Regions from separate parts of the Homo sapiens genome. Here regions 1 and 2 are each reported to be linked to region 3. Evidence: microRNA targets listed by miRTarBase, many of them from high-throughput screens and not tested one by one. Region 3 holds a microRNA gene; each other region holds the end of a gene's coding sequence.

Region 1 (5,000 bases), not on the chromosome of region 3:
GGAGTCTCCCTCTGTCGCCAGGCTAGAGTGCAGCTGCACGATCGTGGCTCACTGCAACCTCCACCTCCCGAGTTCAAGTGATTCTCCTGCCTCAGCCTCCCCAGTAGCTGGGACTACAAGGTGTGTGCCACCACGCCCAGCTAATTTTTGTATTTTTAGCATCAGGGTTTCACCATGTTGCCAGGACAGTCTCGATCTCTTACATCGTGATCCACCCACCTCGGCCTCCCAAAGTGCTGGGATTACAGGGATGAGCCACCGCACCTGGCCATTAATTATTTATTTCTTTAGAGGCAGAATTTCACTCTGACACCCAGGCTGGCGTGTAATGGCACTGTCATGGCTCACAGCAGCCTTGAATTCCTAGGTATCCATGAAAGCCTCCCAAGTAGTGGAGACTGTAGTGGGTCACGCCACCACGACCAGTTAATTTTTTAAATTTTTTTGTAGAGATGGGGTCTTGTTATGGTCTGGAAATCCAGCACTCAAGTGATCCTCCTGCCTTGGCCTCCCAAAGTGCTGGGATAAGTGTGAACCACTGTACTCAGCCAGTAACTTATTTTTAAATTGTAACTCCAGGACACTAGGGTATGCTTGGACTTTCTATGACAGAAACTTAAGAAAATTCAAGACTGCAAACGTGGTAACTTTAATCAGTTTTCAATGAACAGTCATTCACTATGAAGATGATAAGCTATACTTATAGATTGTCTTATTTAATCTCAATACACAAAATAGCAATGTTACAGAACTTAAAAATTAAAGTTTCTTTATAATTAGTGGTACTTATCAAATATTTTATGTAAGTTTTTTTACAGTTCTTTGTAACTCACCATTATTAAGACATACACTTAGAATTGTTTCTTCTGTCCTAAAGGTTCAAAATAATGTTCCCAACCTTCCTTTCTGGCCTCAACTGTTGTTACACTACTTTCCTTCTGTACCTCAAATTACTTGCCTTTCTCTGACTTTGTATGCAGTAGTGACTCTACCCCTAAAGTCCTACCCTATTATTCTATTGCTTTAAAGCCCCAGGAAATGTCACTTTATCCATGAAAGCCCTCCAGGTCCCCTCAGGAATGATTCTTTATCTTTGCACCCATATCTCTATATCATTTACCCAAAGCTTCTTTTATACTGTTTATTAATAATATATAGTACTAATTGGGGTTTTTTGAGGACTAGAATAGAATTTTGTTTATTCTTATTTTGCTTTGCTTTAGTCCTTCCTAACGCCTAGAACAGTGACTTGAACAAAGTAGAGGTTCCATATTTTCATTGCGTGAATAAAGGAATGTTGGTATACAACTGTTGATAATCTCTAATTCCCAGCCAACTGTAGCCAATGGCACTTATTACTGAGATAATTAACTGCAATGCAGCTTATGGCCAAGAAAGAGTATTTTCACTGTGAATATAGCTCAAAAAAATCAAATCTATGATTTAAAATTTTAAGACCATGATCCAATAAAACAACTATGTATATGTGAAGTTGATACAAAGAACTAACCATCTTGAATCTAAAGGAAAATACATAAAACTGTATCGTGGATATCAATGGTAGATAGAAATGATATTCTGTCAGTTTTCTTACAATAACTGAACAATCACATGAATATACCTTTTCTGGAAGATGTTCATTAAATGTTAAATCATCAAGGGTTAAAACTAAACTTCATTTGATGCTCGCCAAGAAGACATTAAACAAATCATGACAGATTAACAATTTCAACTTCTATAGATTTTTTAAGATTCTTTTTGATTACACAAGGTCAGCTGCCTCATAAAATTCTGTTAGATGTCTTTGGGCTTCCTACATTGCTTCCATCTAAAGGTTGCTTCAATTTCTCAGCCTAGACTTTTACAAAGCCTGTAGATTGTTTGTCTTTTGTGTTTTCTAAGTGCCTGATAATTAAAATTTCAATTTAATGCTAATGAGAGTCAGAAGTAGAATTATCTATACAAATCAAAATTAAGGTGAAAATCAACCATGAACCGTAATTCCCAAGTCTCTGTCTACACTCCTATGCCTTTACTTAGCCTGGGTTCTAGAAGAAAATCCTCACCTACTTACTACACATTTCTACTTTAAGTACCTCAAGTTTACCATGCCCAGATCAAACTCCCTGAAACTAGCCCTCCTTCTCCATCCAATTTTCCCACCTCTGTTAATTAGTTCATCATTCTCTCAGTCACTGAGGGCATATATGATGGTAGCTTTTGACCATCGCTTCTCATTCACCTTTTCATTTTTTGCCACATAATTGTAAAGATTCATTCTTCAAAAGGTCTCTTATTTCTACAGTGAACCCATGTCGTTCCCATGTAGCCAACATCGTTTCCTTTGGAAAACTACCCTTTTCTTATTTGAAATGAGGTTGTGAAGCACAATAACTCACCCCATCCCCACTGAGAAACCAGCATGTTACCTGTGGCCTGTCAGTTCATGGTGTCTCATCTCCTTGGTAAATGCCATTGGTCAAAGGGGTAGGTTTATACTGCAGTGGAAGCAATCAGAATTTCCTTCTTGGAATTCATAATTAGATATTATAATAAATGCTCCCTCTACTAGAATTGCTAATCTAGAAATAAGTGAATTTGCAACTACTAGCAGCATCTTCCCAGCTATCTGCAGGGAGTCTATTTACAGTAGAAAGAGATCAAACCAGAGAATGCATGAGAGCCAATATGGAAAGGCAGAGAGTTTTGACATTGTTTAGTCCCTGGAGCCAGCCACGCTCAAAGTCTACGCCATCCCTGGAATTGCCAGTTAGATGAGTCCAATTTCAAAATTCAGACTCTACAACTTTCTACCTAGGTGAACTTGGACAAGCTACTTAACCTTTCTGTGCCTCACTTACCTCATCTATAAAATGGAAGGTACTATTAGTACCTACCTCACAGGGTTATATGAGAATTGGCATTGTAAATGCTCAATAAATGTTAGCAATAACCGTCAAGTGCCAGTGAATTCTAATGTTTGATCTTTGAATTGGGGTCCTGTCACAGCAGAAAGAGTACAGATGAGAGGGCTTTGATTTTAAAAACATGCTTGGAGTTCATTCTTCCCCCGCCTTTGCGTTATGGTCACCCCCATGAGATTCCTGAGCAACATTTCAGCTGGCTTGTCTGACCACTTCTTCACTCTCTACAATCCACCTGAATCACTAGTGTGAGGGCCATCTGCACTAAACATCACTGTCATCATGGAATGTCCTGGCTCCAGTTTCTGTTCATATTCCTCTTCCTGATTTCCCAGGTCCCACTTTCATTGTCCAATGAACGACCTCTCTCCCCAGCATTCTGGTCGGCCTCATATCCTGCCTTTCACGAGATCATGCCTTGCCAATTTGTATCCTTCTGCCTTTCCTTCAGTCATCACCCTCATCATCCCATCTTTTTTTCCCTCGAGATAATCAGCTGCAATCATTCCTCCATGCAAGTTCTGCCCCCTCCAGGATATCTCCCCTGGCCATTGTGGCTTTCACTGCTTTTATTCTCCTTGGCATTCCAAGTCATGTTAAATTCTGTAACATGCAATCAGAGATTATCCCATATTGTTTCAGATGGGTGTAACCCAACTAGAATGTGAAGTTTTTAGGTTAGATTTTTTGGCATGTCCCCAAACTCAGCAATAAGCACACAATCAGCCTCAAAATAAATATTTTGTATAGGGTCTAACCATAACACTAACCATTCCTCTTTTTTTTTTTTTTTTTTTTTTGTGAGATCAAGTCTCGCTCTGTCGCCCAGGCTGGAGTGCCGTGGGGCGACCTCAGCTCACTGCAACCTCCACCTCCTGGGTTCAGGTGATCCTTGTGCCTCAGCCTCCAGAGTAGTGGGTATTACAGATGTGTGCCATCACGCCCAGCTAATTTTTGTATTTTTAGTAGAGATGGGGTTTCACCATGTTGGCCAGGCTGTCTCGAACCCCCAACCTCAGGTGATCTGCCCGCCTCAGCCTCCCAAAGTGCTGGAATTACAGGTGTGAGCCACCGTGCCCAGCCCTTCCTATTACTTAAATTTGGTAGTTTTGAGAGAATTTGTTTCAGAGTAACACAACTTTTACTGCAGTTACCTAATCTTGATGCAAAAACTCAATTCTGAGAAGCACACAAATACTTAAATGACAAAATAAGGCAAATTTAAGACAGTTACATGTCTTTATTACATAAACATCATAATATTTCTCATAGGAGTTGGTCTTCAGTTTGCTTGTTGCTTTCGCAGAATGTCAAATATCTATAGAAAATGTCTAATTATTTATGAACAAACATTCCCATCCCTGCCCCGCAAAAAATCTCATTGCCTGCAATTCCTAACCAGATTCCTGAGAAAAATAATAGGATTTATTTTATAGCATCATACATAGATTTTCTTTCAAGATATAAAAAAGGACAGACTTCTAAAACATGAATCTCCTTTCGTTTACAAAGTTCTATAAAAATACATTAAGTATGTTCAAATGTTTGTTCTTTCACTTTATATTCCAGTTTACCAGAAACAAAAAATGGCAGTACATAAAGATATGTAAACCACATTAATCTTGCAGTAATATAATGTCAACATCATCATGAACACCTTGCAGAAGCAGCTCTCCTGGATATGTTACAATCTTCCTTCGTTTTGCAGCTTTAAGAGTTCCTACCAATGCTTCAAAGAGGTTGGCACATTTATCATCACGGAAGAGGACCCCAAATTTCACGCTTAACTTTCCATCAGCATCTAGTTTGAGAAAATACATTGTTAGCAAATGCAAAGTCTGTTTCATACCCTCAAGTATGGAAGACTTACAAAATCTTTAATAAATTTATAACTATGGGCTATCCAAGGTTGCAATTTAACACTTAACAGTCATAAATTCAACATATTCTCTTCCCTGATCCAAAAAGTAATGGAATAAATACATGCTATATGCCTCTTGGCCTTAGGATTATCCAGACAAAGACTGAGAACCAACATTTACAAAAGTTGAATGTGCTACAGTGCTAATACTGCAG
Region 2 (5,343 bases), not on the chromosome of region 3:
AAAACTTAACAGTTGAGTGACCTTGGACAAGTCACTTTCATTTGATAAGATTTCATTAGAAACCCCCATGTGCCATATACCGTTGGGTGCACTCTTTTTTTTTTTTTTTTTTTTTTTTTTTTGAGACGGAGTCTCGCTCTGTCTCCCAGGCTGGAGTGCAGTGGCGCAATCTCGGCTCACTGCAAGCTCCACCTCCTGGGCTCACGCCATTCTCCTGCCTCAGCTTCTCGAGTAGCTGGGAATACAGGTGCCCGCCACCACCCTTGGCTAATTTTTTATATTTTTAGTAGAGACGGGGTTTCACCATTTTAGCCAGGATGGTCTCAATCTGACCTTGTGATCCGCCCACCTCGGTCTCCCAAAGTGCTGGGATTACAGGCATGAGCCACCGCGCCGGGCCTGTTTGGTGTACTCTTAACCTCTAAGAGGTCATTTCCTCAATGGTAAAATTTGGATAGTAATGCCTGACTCAAGAGTGTTGCTCTGAGTCAAAAAAATACCAAGCAGTTTAATGAATATTGAGTGTCAGCTCCATCCCCATCAATGTCAGCATACCAAGGTCTTTCTCAGGACTCCTTTTTTTTTTTTGAGATGGAGTCTCACTCTGTCATTGAGGCTGGAGTGCAATGGCCCAATCTCGGCTCACAGCAACCTCCACCTCCCGGGTTCAAGCAATTCTCCTGTCCCAGCCTCCTGAGTAGCTGGGATTACAGGTGCCCGCCGCCATGCTCGGCTAATTTTTGTACTTTTAGTAGAGACAGGGTTTCACCATGTTGGCCAGGCTGGTCTCGAATTCCTGACCTCAGGTGATCTGCCTACCTTGGCATCCCAAAGTGCTGGGATTACAGGCGTGAGCCACCGTGCCTGGCTGCTTCTTAATATAATTATTTATATGTGTTGCCATTTCAGGTCTAAGAAGAGCCACAAGAAGAGCCGGAGAGGGAATGAGTAATGGACTCAGTTTGGTTTTAGTCCACATGGCCTCCTGTGGATATAAGGATATCTGTATGTGGAAGGATTAAGATCTCCCCCAGGCAGCTATAAGAATATTTTAGTTTTTTTCTTATCAAGTTTCTCAACCTTTATTTTTAATGAAGGAGGTGCTGAGTTTTGTATCTTTTTAATCATAATCAACATCAGTTTTTGACCCAACTAACCTTGACTGTATTCAAACTTATGAGAGTATAAAGGATCTGGAGGTTGGGGATATGACTGACAAGGAAAGGCTGTGGCCACCTGATGACCCTTTCCCTTTTTATTAAACCGGACACACCTGTTTCCCATTTCGCTGTAGTTTAGTTTTTGGTTTGTTGTGGTTGGAACTGCTTTGAGAATCCTGGGATTTGTGCTGCTGCTGTTATTCAAAGATCAAAGGAGTAAAACATAGTTGCTCCTAACTTTTTTCCAGCAGCAGCAAGTGGTAATAAACATGAAAACTGGTTTGTAGCAGTTTTGAAAGAATAGAATGCATTCAAATGTAAGGCTGCTTCTGGATCATTAAAGCCAGTTTCATCAAACAGTTCAACAGAGAGCAGCACTTAATACCCTTTATACAGCCCATTTTTTCATAGTTTCATTTGTTCTTGCCCACAAGCTTGAAATCCAGGTTAAGGTATCCAGCCTTTATCATATAAGCATTGACATTATCCAGGCCTAGTCAGTAGCAGTAGGGTAACGGGATTGAAAAAGATTTGATGGAGAGGAAAGTATCTAATATTAGTCATGGTTTTGACCTAAATTGCTAGACAGTCGTGCCATTCACAAAGTCAGAAAATACAGCAGGAAGAGACAGCTTTTAGAGGGGCAGAGAATTAGAGGATGGTGGTAGTAATGAAAATGATGCATTCAGTTTAACAAGTTTAATTTGAGACAGCTATGGTATAGCTAAAAACAAAAGCCCATAAAGTTGGAGATAGGGACCAGAGTTTAACATAGCGATCTAGGCCAGAATTGACAATGTTTAAGTAATGGTGGAATCTGTCAATAAGACTTCCCAGAGTGTTAATATATATCAGAAATGCACACAACAGAACCATAGGCAACACCAACACAGGAAGAAATAGAAGTCACCTATTGAAAACTGGAATGGCCCATTCAGAAAGACAGGAGAATTAGGAGAGAGTGAGTGAAAGAAGCCAAGGGTCAAGAATGCAGAAGCAAAGGAAGGACTAAAAAGCCTCCACGGACATCGATAATCAAGAGATTATTAAGATCTTTGCTAGAAGAGTTCCTTTACCTGTACTTAACTCCCTTAAAAAGAGAAAAGTGATGGAATGACTTCTGCAACTGTAGTCCCAGCAGGAACTGTGAAGACCAGCTGCCCTGCAGGATCCAGTTTTTCTTGGGAGGTTGTATCTGGTCATAAGGTAAACATTCTATATATTCTATGCCTGCTCTAGAATTGAAAGACTTCAGCAGTATTAAAGCATTTTTTAATCTTATTTGAGCTTTCATATTCTTCAATGGTTCCTTTCGTAATACCTGAGTTAATAAAAGTGGTCTGAAAGAGCTCTTACGGTTTCTGATAGAACTATATAGGACTACCTTTTAAGATTAAATATAAGCATCTGTACGTAAATGTATTACAGTGTCATAGCAGTTATTTCTTTATGAAAGTGATCTAGGTAGAAAGAAATGTCTTCTGGCATGGACAGAAATGACCCATGGACCAACCAAGCTGTCATCCAGTACACTCTTAAAATAAAACTTTGTCTTAAAATATGTTTTAAAGTAAAAATAAACCCACGCACAAAGCCCAATAAATTTTAGTAACAGAAATAAACCTCCCTAAACAAACATTAAAACATACTTGTTTAGACATATGGTAATATGTGGACCAAAATTGAGGTACCACAGCCAATCAATAGCAGGAAAGAGAATGTCCCTATTCTTTAATTAGAAGAAGGAGGTAAGAGTAAGACATGTTGCATGTCTGTAGATATCGTTTTGATAAAATTACACAGGAGATGGAGCTTGAGGACAAACCTTGCTGTAAGGCTCTTTCTGTCATCTATGTGCTTGCCTATGGATGAAGCATTTTAAACTTTTTGACTACAGCATACATTTTAAAAACGTATTTTACATCTTACCTCTGTACACATCTGTATTCTGTACTGAGACAAATTTCAGGAAAGAATACTTACTATGCAAAGTGAATTCTGGTGTTTCCTACTTGTTAACAGTTTTTAATATTGGATGAAACCACTTAATCGATTTCACTTCCAATAATTTGAAATACACTGACTTAAAAGCTTTGCCATAGGGCACAATCGCCTTTTAATACTAAGAAAGTAAGGGAGATGTGTTCCAAGGGGCAAAAGAAATAATGCATTTTTGGCCAGGTGCGGTGGCTCACGCCTGTAATCCCAGCACTTTGGGAGGCCGAGGCGGGCAGATCACCTGAGGTCGGGAGTTTGAGACCAGCCTGGCCAACATGGAGAAACCCTGTCTCTACTAAAAAATACAAAATTAGCCGGGCATGGTGGCGCATGCCTGTAATCCCAGTTACTTGGGAGGCTGAGGCAGGAGAATCGCTTGAACCTGGGAGGCAGAGGATGCGGTGAGCTGAGATCGTGCCACTGCACTTCAGCCTGGGCAAAAAGAGCGAAACTCCATCTCAAAAAAAAAAAAAAAAGAAGAAGAAGAATGGGTTTGGTGAGAGGGTTCCAATATTAACAACCCAACTTCAAGCTCATTCCTCTAACCTCTTCCTGTTTGTTATTCTTCAGTAGACCGAAGTTTAAATAAGCATTATTTAGAAAAGAACGATCACAGATTGCCCACTCCCTCAAAAAGGTTAATGTGACAGAAATTCTCCACCTGCTCAAAAAAGACAGCAGACATGATCTCTTTAAAAAAAAAAAGTTCAAAAGAGATTAAGAGATGAAAAATAAGATTGGTGGAGTTTAAAGGCCTTATACTAGAAACCACAAAACATAAAACAGCACAGAGAAAATAGGCTGGAGGAAATAAAAAATGGAAAAGAGAAATATGTAGAATAAAGAAATATTCTGATGGTTTAAAAAGAATTGGCCGGGTGCGGTGGCTCACGCCTGTAATCCCAGCACTTTGGGAGGCCGAGGCAGACGGATCATGAGGTCAGGAGATCGAGACCATCCAGGCTAACACAGTGAAACCCGTCTCTACTAAAAATACAAAAAATTAGCTGGGTGTGCTGGCGGGTAGAGCTACTAGGGAGGCTGAGGCAGGAGAATGGCGTGAATCCGGGAGGCGGAGCTTTCAGTGAGCCGAGATCGCGCCATTGCACTCCAGCCTGGGCAACAGAGTGAGACTCCGTCTCAAAAAGAAAAAAGAATTAAATGGGGTCAGGATGGTCTCAGATCTTATAACAAGAAGGCAATGAAGCAAAAGGCTCCAAAGGTTTGAGAAAAAGTGCCAGGAATTTTATACTTTGCCAAAGTTGTCTTAAAATACAAAGGCTATAGATGTTCTCAAGTTTGTAAGAACTTAAAAGTACAAATCATGAGTCTTTGGGAAAAAACCGCCCAATAATGAAATTCAACTAAAGAAGAAATGAATCAAATTAAGGACTTAGGAACAAAGAATCAGTAAAAGGAGTGTTAGTAAACACTTCAGAAACTTTAAAAATAATGGGCAATGATTATAAAGTCAAATATTATGAACACTGTCTATATAGAAATAACAAGTAGAGTGTGCTGGTTTCATCTTTCATAGCAGGAATCACGTACAGTCTCTAATTAAAACATACATGAAGCTAGAAAAAAAAATAGCCTCTTTATTGTTTTCCGTAATTGTCCTTAATTTTAGGAGAAATCTTACAAGACTAGATTCTCTTGTGGGGAAAAAAGTATTTAAATTGAGCATTTTTTCAGTTTCACACTTGTTTTCCTTTTGTTAATTTGCTATATTTGTTAAATATAGCATATGAGCCCACTTTTGTAAAACTATTTGTATATATGTGCCTGTATGATTAAGAGAGATGGTTGGAATGAATGAAGTTCACCAGATAGTACTTCTTTCTGGCTGATGAACTTTTGAATGATTTTTAAACTTTGTACTTTTATATAATGCTTATTTTCTTTTTACAATAAACATGTTAATTTCTACAAGGAAGAAATGAGTTGTTGGGAGTTAAAAGCTTTTTTATAAGCATACCAACACATTTTACGTATTGTTTGCTGGAACTACAGATTGATAACCACTTTTATGAAGGGCAATTTGGCAATATGTAGCAGGAACCTTAGGACTTTTGATCCTTTTACCCAGTAATCCCATTTAGGGGAATTTACCCTAATAGAATAATTACATGTACACACAAATAGCTTTATCCCATCATCATTTTACACATTACATATATAATAT
Region 3 (5,343 bases):
CCCAGAGTGGCCACTTGATTAGAGACCTAGCACAGGAGGAAGAGATGGGCAGGGAGAGTGACGGGGAGCAGCACAGTCCCTGGGAGCCCGAAGTGGGTGGGCACAGGGCTCCCTAGGAGAATGGAAGGACATCTATGAGCTGTAGCCCAAGAGGAAGAGGTCACTGGGGCTAGATGCGGCAGACCCTCGCAGGCTTTGGGAAGGGCTTCAGAATTCAGCCTGAGGGCAATGGGGAGCCCTTTTGGGATATTAAACTTGAGTAAGATATGAGCATATTTGCATCTTGAAAAATCATTATGGGAAGATGGCTGGGAAGAGAGGAGGAGTGGCAGAAGAAAGATAGGTTGGAGACAATTGATTGCTCGATGATATAAAATGTTAAGTACCATGAATGATGCTGTTAGGCTGGAATGCGCCAAGCATAAAGGTGGGGCATGGCATCAAAAGGTAGGTCAACATATTAAATAATTCCATGTATTGAAATATCCAGAAAATATATAGACAGATCTATAGAGATAGAAACTGGTCTGCCCAGGACTAGGGGTTGTCTAAGGATAAGGAGCTTCTTTTTTGGATGGTGAAATAACCTAAAATATATTGTGCCATTGTTTGCACAACTTTGTGAATATATTAAAAACCTGTTAATTGTACTCACTAAATGTCCTCCTTCTAAATTAAGCTGTTCTTGACAAGAAAAGGAAAGAAACAAAGAAAAGAAGAGAAAAAAGGTCAAGGTTTGGTCCTGGGTGCTCAAATGGCAGGCCACAGACAGGAAACACAGTTGTGAGGAATTACAACAGCCTCCCGGCCAGAGCTGGAGAGGTGGAGCCCAGGTCCCCTCTAACACCCCTTCTCCTGGCCAGGTTGGAGTCCCGCCACAGGCCACCAGAGCGGAGCAGCGCAGCGCCCTGTCTCCCAGCCTGAGGTGCAGTGCTGCATCTCTGGTCAGTTGGGAGTCTGAGATGAAGCACTGTAGCTCAGGAAGAGAGAAGTTGTTCTGCAGCCATCAGCCTGGAAGTGGTAAGTGCTGGGGGGTTGTGGGGGGCCATAACAGGAAGGACAGAGTGTTTCCAGACTCCATACTATCAGCCACTTGTGATGCTGGGGAAGTTCCTCTACACAAGTTCCCCTGGTGCCACGATCTGCTTCACGAGTCTGGGCATGTCCTGACTCCTCTGTGTACCCCAGTGTGTCCATCTTAGCATGAGGCGTTAGCATTTCCCCAGCACCCTGCCTCTGCTTTCTCTTTCTGAGCCCATGGCAGACACAGCTAATCAGTAAAGGCATATATTCTTTTTTTTTTGAGACACAGTCTCACTCCATCACCCAGGCTGGAGTGCAGTGGCATAATCTCAGCTCACTGCAACCTCCTCCTCCCAGGGTCAAGCAATTCTCGTGCCTCAGCCTCCCAAGTAGCTGAGATTACAGGTGTGCGCCACCACACCTGGCTAATTTTTGTATTTTTAGTAGAGATGGGGTTTCACTATGTTGGCCAGGCTGGTCTCAAACTCCTGACTTCAGGTGATCTGCCCGCCTCGGCCTCCCAAAGTGCTGGGATTACAGGCATGAGCCTCCACGCCCCGCCAGGCATCCATTCTTGAAGTGCTCAGATGCAGCTTCAGAATCCTCAACAATGAGCCCTGGAAAGCCACTAGTACTGATTCACAGCTGAAACTCATTCATCATTTGTGGATCAAACAATTCCTAAAAACCCTTTCAGCCCTGAAGATAAAAATTCTGGCCTTTGAGTCAGGGTCTTCACTCTGTACTTCTAACCTTGGCTCCGGGGTATTGCCGAAACCAGTCCAGGCACGTCACAAATGTCTGACTTCTCCCAGAGGCTTCAGAAGCACAATGAGCAGCAGAGGAGAGCCATGGAGCCAAGCACAGTCTCATTTAACCTCCCCAAAAGCTTGGGAAGTGGGTGGTGTTATAGCCCCATTTTACAGATGAGAAAAACTGAGGCTTATTTAAGCAGCTCACCTAAAGTCACATATTGATTGTGCTGAGCTGAGATTGTACCCTAATCTGCCTTCAAATCCATGTTTTTACCCATTGCATGTGATTATGGAACCTGGGACCGAGGAGCAGGAGGAGAACATTCTAAATTCTGCTCCCATCTTGTCTTTACATCTCAGGTCACTTTTAGCAAAGACAGACCCGGACACTTGCCATTAATACTACAGGCTTCCTTCCTCCTACCCCCTTCCCCCAATCTTATTCATCTCACCTCTCCAGTAGGTCGTGGACTCATGCATTTTATAATTAAAGAAGGCCAAGGCTCAGGGGTTAAGTGACTTACTGGAGGTTATCAGAGAGGAAGTTGCCAAACCCAGGCTAGGAACTGAATGGTTGGTTTAAATCCACCCCTCTGGCAGGAGACTGGGGAATACACATGAGCCGTGCAGACAGCAGAGGGCAGTCCTGGGGGTGGGGGCGCCAGAGGGTTTCCGGTACTTTTCAGGGCAATTGAAGTTCCGGTCACTACTCCCCCCCAGAGCAATAAGCCACATCCGGCGACGTGTGGCACCCCACCCTGGCTGCTACAGATGGGGCTGGATGCAGAAGAGAACTCCAGCTGGTCCTTAGGGACACGGCGGCCTTGGCGCTGAAGGCCACTCGCTCCCACCTTGTCCTCACGGTCCAGTTTTCCCAGGAATCCCTTAGATGCTAAGATGGGGATTCCTGGAAATACTGTTCTTGAGGTCATGGTTTCACAGCTGGATTTGCCTCCTTCCCACCCCACAGTTGCCCCCCAATGGGGCCTCGGCTGGCTCACAGGATGAGGGTTCAAGAAGAAGGCTGTCCCTGGAGGTAAGAGGGCTTATGAACCATGTTCCAAACCTTTGCGTTGCTTTTCTTTCCATCGTGTCTATTTCATAACATCCCTGTGAGGCTGGATGTGGGAACTTCAGCACTGCCGTACTCTTGGGAAATTTGTCCAAGGCCACCCGGCTGAGCAGCGGTTGAACCAGGACACCATCAGGCATGCGTTTCTTGTCTCCACCACACCCTCAACCCACTTCCCAACGCGCCTTGCGACAGGGGCTGCGGTATTGCATCCACATGACTGATAAACTAGTAAACACACATGAATTCATTTTAAAAGTGTATTCAATCAGTTAGGTAAACTAAAAACCTTAAGTCTTCGTTCGATTTGGAATGCAGCCAGAGAACAAATGGAAAATTTTTCAAGGTAGAGAAGATGAAAACTCAGAACGCCCTCTTGTGGCATCTCTACCCACCCTAGGAACACTATGGCTCTTCCCCTACACATGGTGATTGCTAACCTTGCTACAAGACGTTGGACACACACACACACACACACACACACACACACACACTGAGGTTCCTTTTGCCCCCTCACTTTTGAGCCAGTGACTACTGAAACCCTCTCCATTGTTGCACCACCAGCAATGCCCCCATCACTTCCTCTCATTTACTTCCACAGGCTGGTTCATCCTCAAAGCCCTCCTTACGTAGATCTGTGGGATCAGTGAGGCTCAGAGAGGTAAAGTGGCCAGCCCAAGGTCGCCCAGACAGCAAAAGGCAGGGCCAGCGCTGATTTCAAGTCCAATGGCCTATGGCAATTTCTTAGCCAAAAGCAAAATCTACAAAAATAAAAAGTCAGGCACAGTGGTGAGTGCCTACAGTCCCAGCTACTGAGGAGGCCGACGGGGGAGGACCACTTGAGCTTGGGAGTTCCTGGCTGCAGAGAGCTATGATTGTGCCTGTGAATAGCCAATGCACTCCAGCCTGAGCAAGATAGGGAGACCCTGTCTCTAAAAAATACCTAAATAATTTTAAAAGTCAGCCTCTCTGACTGCCTATAGAGAATGCTAACTAACTGAATGACAGAAGACCTAATGTAATCCAGGTGCAAAATCAGAACTTTCCGGCCGGGCGCGGTGGCTCACACCTGTAATCCCAACACTTTGGGAGGCCCAGGCGGGTGGATCACGAGGTCAGGAGTTCAAGACCGGCCTGCCCAACATGGCAAAACCCCGTCTCTACTAAAAATACAAAAAATTAGCTGGGCATGGTGGTGGCCACCTATAATCTCAGCTACTCAGGAGGCTGAGGCAGGAGAATTGCTTGGACCCGGGAGGCAGAGGTTGCAGTGAGCTGAGATCGCGCCACTGCACTCCAGCGTGGGGGACAAAAGCGAAACTCTGTCTCAAAAAAAAAAAAATTAGAACTTTCCCCGTACTCTTGCTAGGGCTTTTCATGGAGATGTAGAAATGGTAGTAAGTGCCAAGGCCCCAGAACCCTCATGTTTGGGTCCGACTCCCACATTGCCAGAGACTAGGCAGCTCACACAGGTGTCCCAAGCTGTCTTTCTCACAGGCCGCATTGAAGGCATTTATGAAATGAGACCCCCTCTTCCTCATCCGTAGTGACAGGGCTGGCCTGACCGTGGAGAAATCAGATTTGATCATGATAGCTTCCACTCCGTGACTGGTCACGATCTGCCAGGCGCTGTGCTAAACACTTTCATAGGCCTTGTCCCCCTCCATCCTGATAACACCCCAGTGAAGCAGGCCCTGCTCTTCACTCCACTCCACAAAGCCAAGGCTGAGAGAGGTTAACAGACTTACCTAAGGTCACACAGCTAAGAAGTCGTGAAGCTGGGATCGAATCAAGTCTGTGTTTATGGGTTTAACTATCATGTTGTGGCCCCAACCCCATTTGACCTAGCCTGGCTGGTGGGCCTTCTTGCAGTAGCTTCCCCTGGAGAAGAGGAAAAGCAAACCTTCATTGAGACCCAAGCGGTCTCTCCTGTGCTCTGTGACAATAATAAAGTTCCAGCCCTTGGCTCCTGTCCTGTTTCTTTCTGGGAATTTGGGGAAGGGGGGAGGTGGCGAAGGCAGGGAAAGAACCTGACAGGCCCAGCTGAACACCCCCAAGTGGCTCCACACAGCCACTTTGGGAGGCCACATAGATAGCAGTCAGGACCCACATCCTGGCAGTTGGAGGCCCCAGGAAGCAGCCATGTCTGGGGATGCTTCCCTGGTATGGAGGGTTAGGGGATGGAGAGTGTCCCTTGAAGCTCAGTGAGGGCTTCTTGGGGCACTTGGGATCTAGCCATGTGGCAACCCCTCTCTGTCAGTCACAATGGTGTGACTGACCAGGTCAAATAAGAAAGAGTGTGAAATGTGAAGCCAGTTCACATCTCACACAGGTGTTTGGATTCACAGTGGCCTCTGGACATTAGCCAGGCCCTGCAGTAACACTGGACATTAGCTGTGCCATAGGCAGCGTGGCCAGCACATGAGGACACTTTTCACATGGTTATCTGCCTTGGCGTGATCCTCCAAACTGCCATATTTTGAGGGGAAAAAA

Evidence for each region. The annotated mature microRNA hsa-miR-145-3p reads GGAUUCCUGGAAAUACUGUUCU and lies in region 3 at 2,680-2,701, shown strand. An mRNA with a match to its seed (bases 2 to 7 or 8) in the 3' UTR can be bound and repressed. Matches are read on the target gene's strand: a 7mer-m8 pairs with bases 2 to 8, a 7mer-A1 pairs with bases 2 to 7 and ends in A, and an 8mer does both.
Region 1: miRTarBase lists ABRACL as a target of hsa-miR-145-3p. Seed matches in the 3' UTR shown: 7mer-m8 at 4,326-4,332.
Region 2: the mRNA of PRPF38A is a reported target of hsa-miR-145-3p. Seed matches in the 3' UTR shown: 8mer at 4,697-4,704.

Annotation. Positions count from the first base shown.
Region 1 is chr6:139,042,444-139,047,443 of GRCh38, reverse strand. ABRACL (ABRA C-terminal like) reads right to left here. Exons shown (of 3, transcript NM_021243.3): 3 at 4,142-4,725. The coding sequence ends at 4,541. Among named protein-coding and RNA genes, the nearest start is that of ABRACL, 16 kb to the right of the region's middle.
Region 2 is chr1:52,415,739-52,421,081 of GRCh38, forward strand. PRPF38A (pre-mRNA processing factor 38A) reads left to right here. Exons shown (of 10, transcript NM_032864.4): 10 at 910-5,098. The coding sequence ends at 952. Among named protein-coding and RNA genes, the nearest start is that of PRPF38A, 14 kb to the left of the region's middle. RefSeq lists a silencer at 1,119-1,413.
Region 3 is chr5:149,428,020-149,433,362 of GRCh38, forward strand. MIR145 (microRNA 145) reads left to right here and starts at 2,627; the gene lies at 2,627-2,714. It overlaps CARMN (cardiac mesoderm enhancer-associated non-coding RNA), which reads left to right. Exons shown (of 5, transcript NR_105060.1): 4 at 864-1,020; 5 at 4,699-4,817. MIR143 (microRNA 143) reads left to right here and starts at 899; the gene lies at 899-1,004. RefSeq lists enhancers at 2,967-3,261, 5,278-5,343.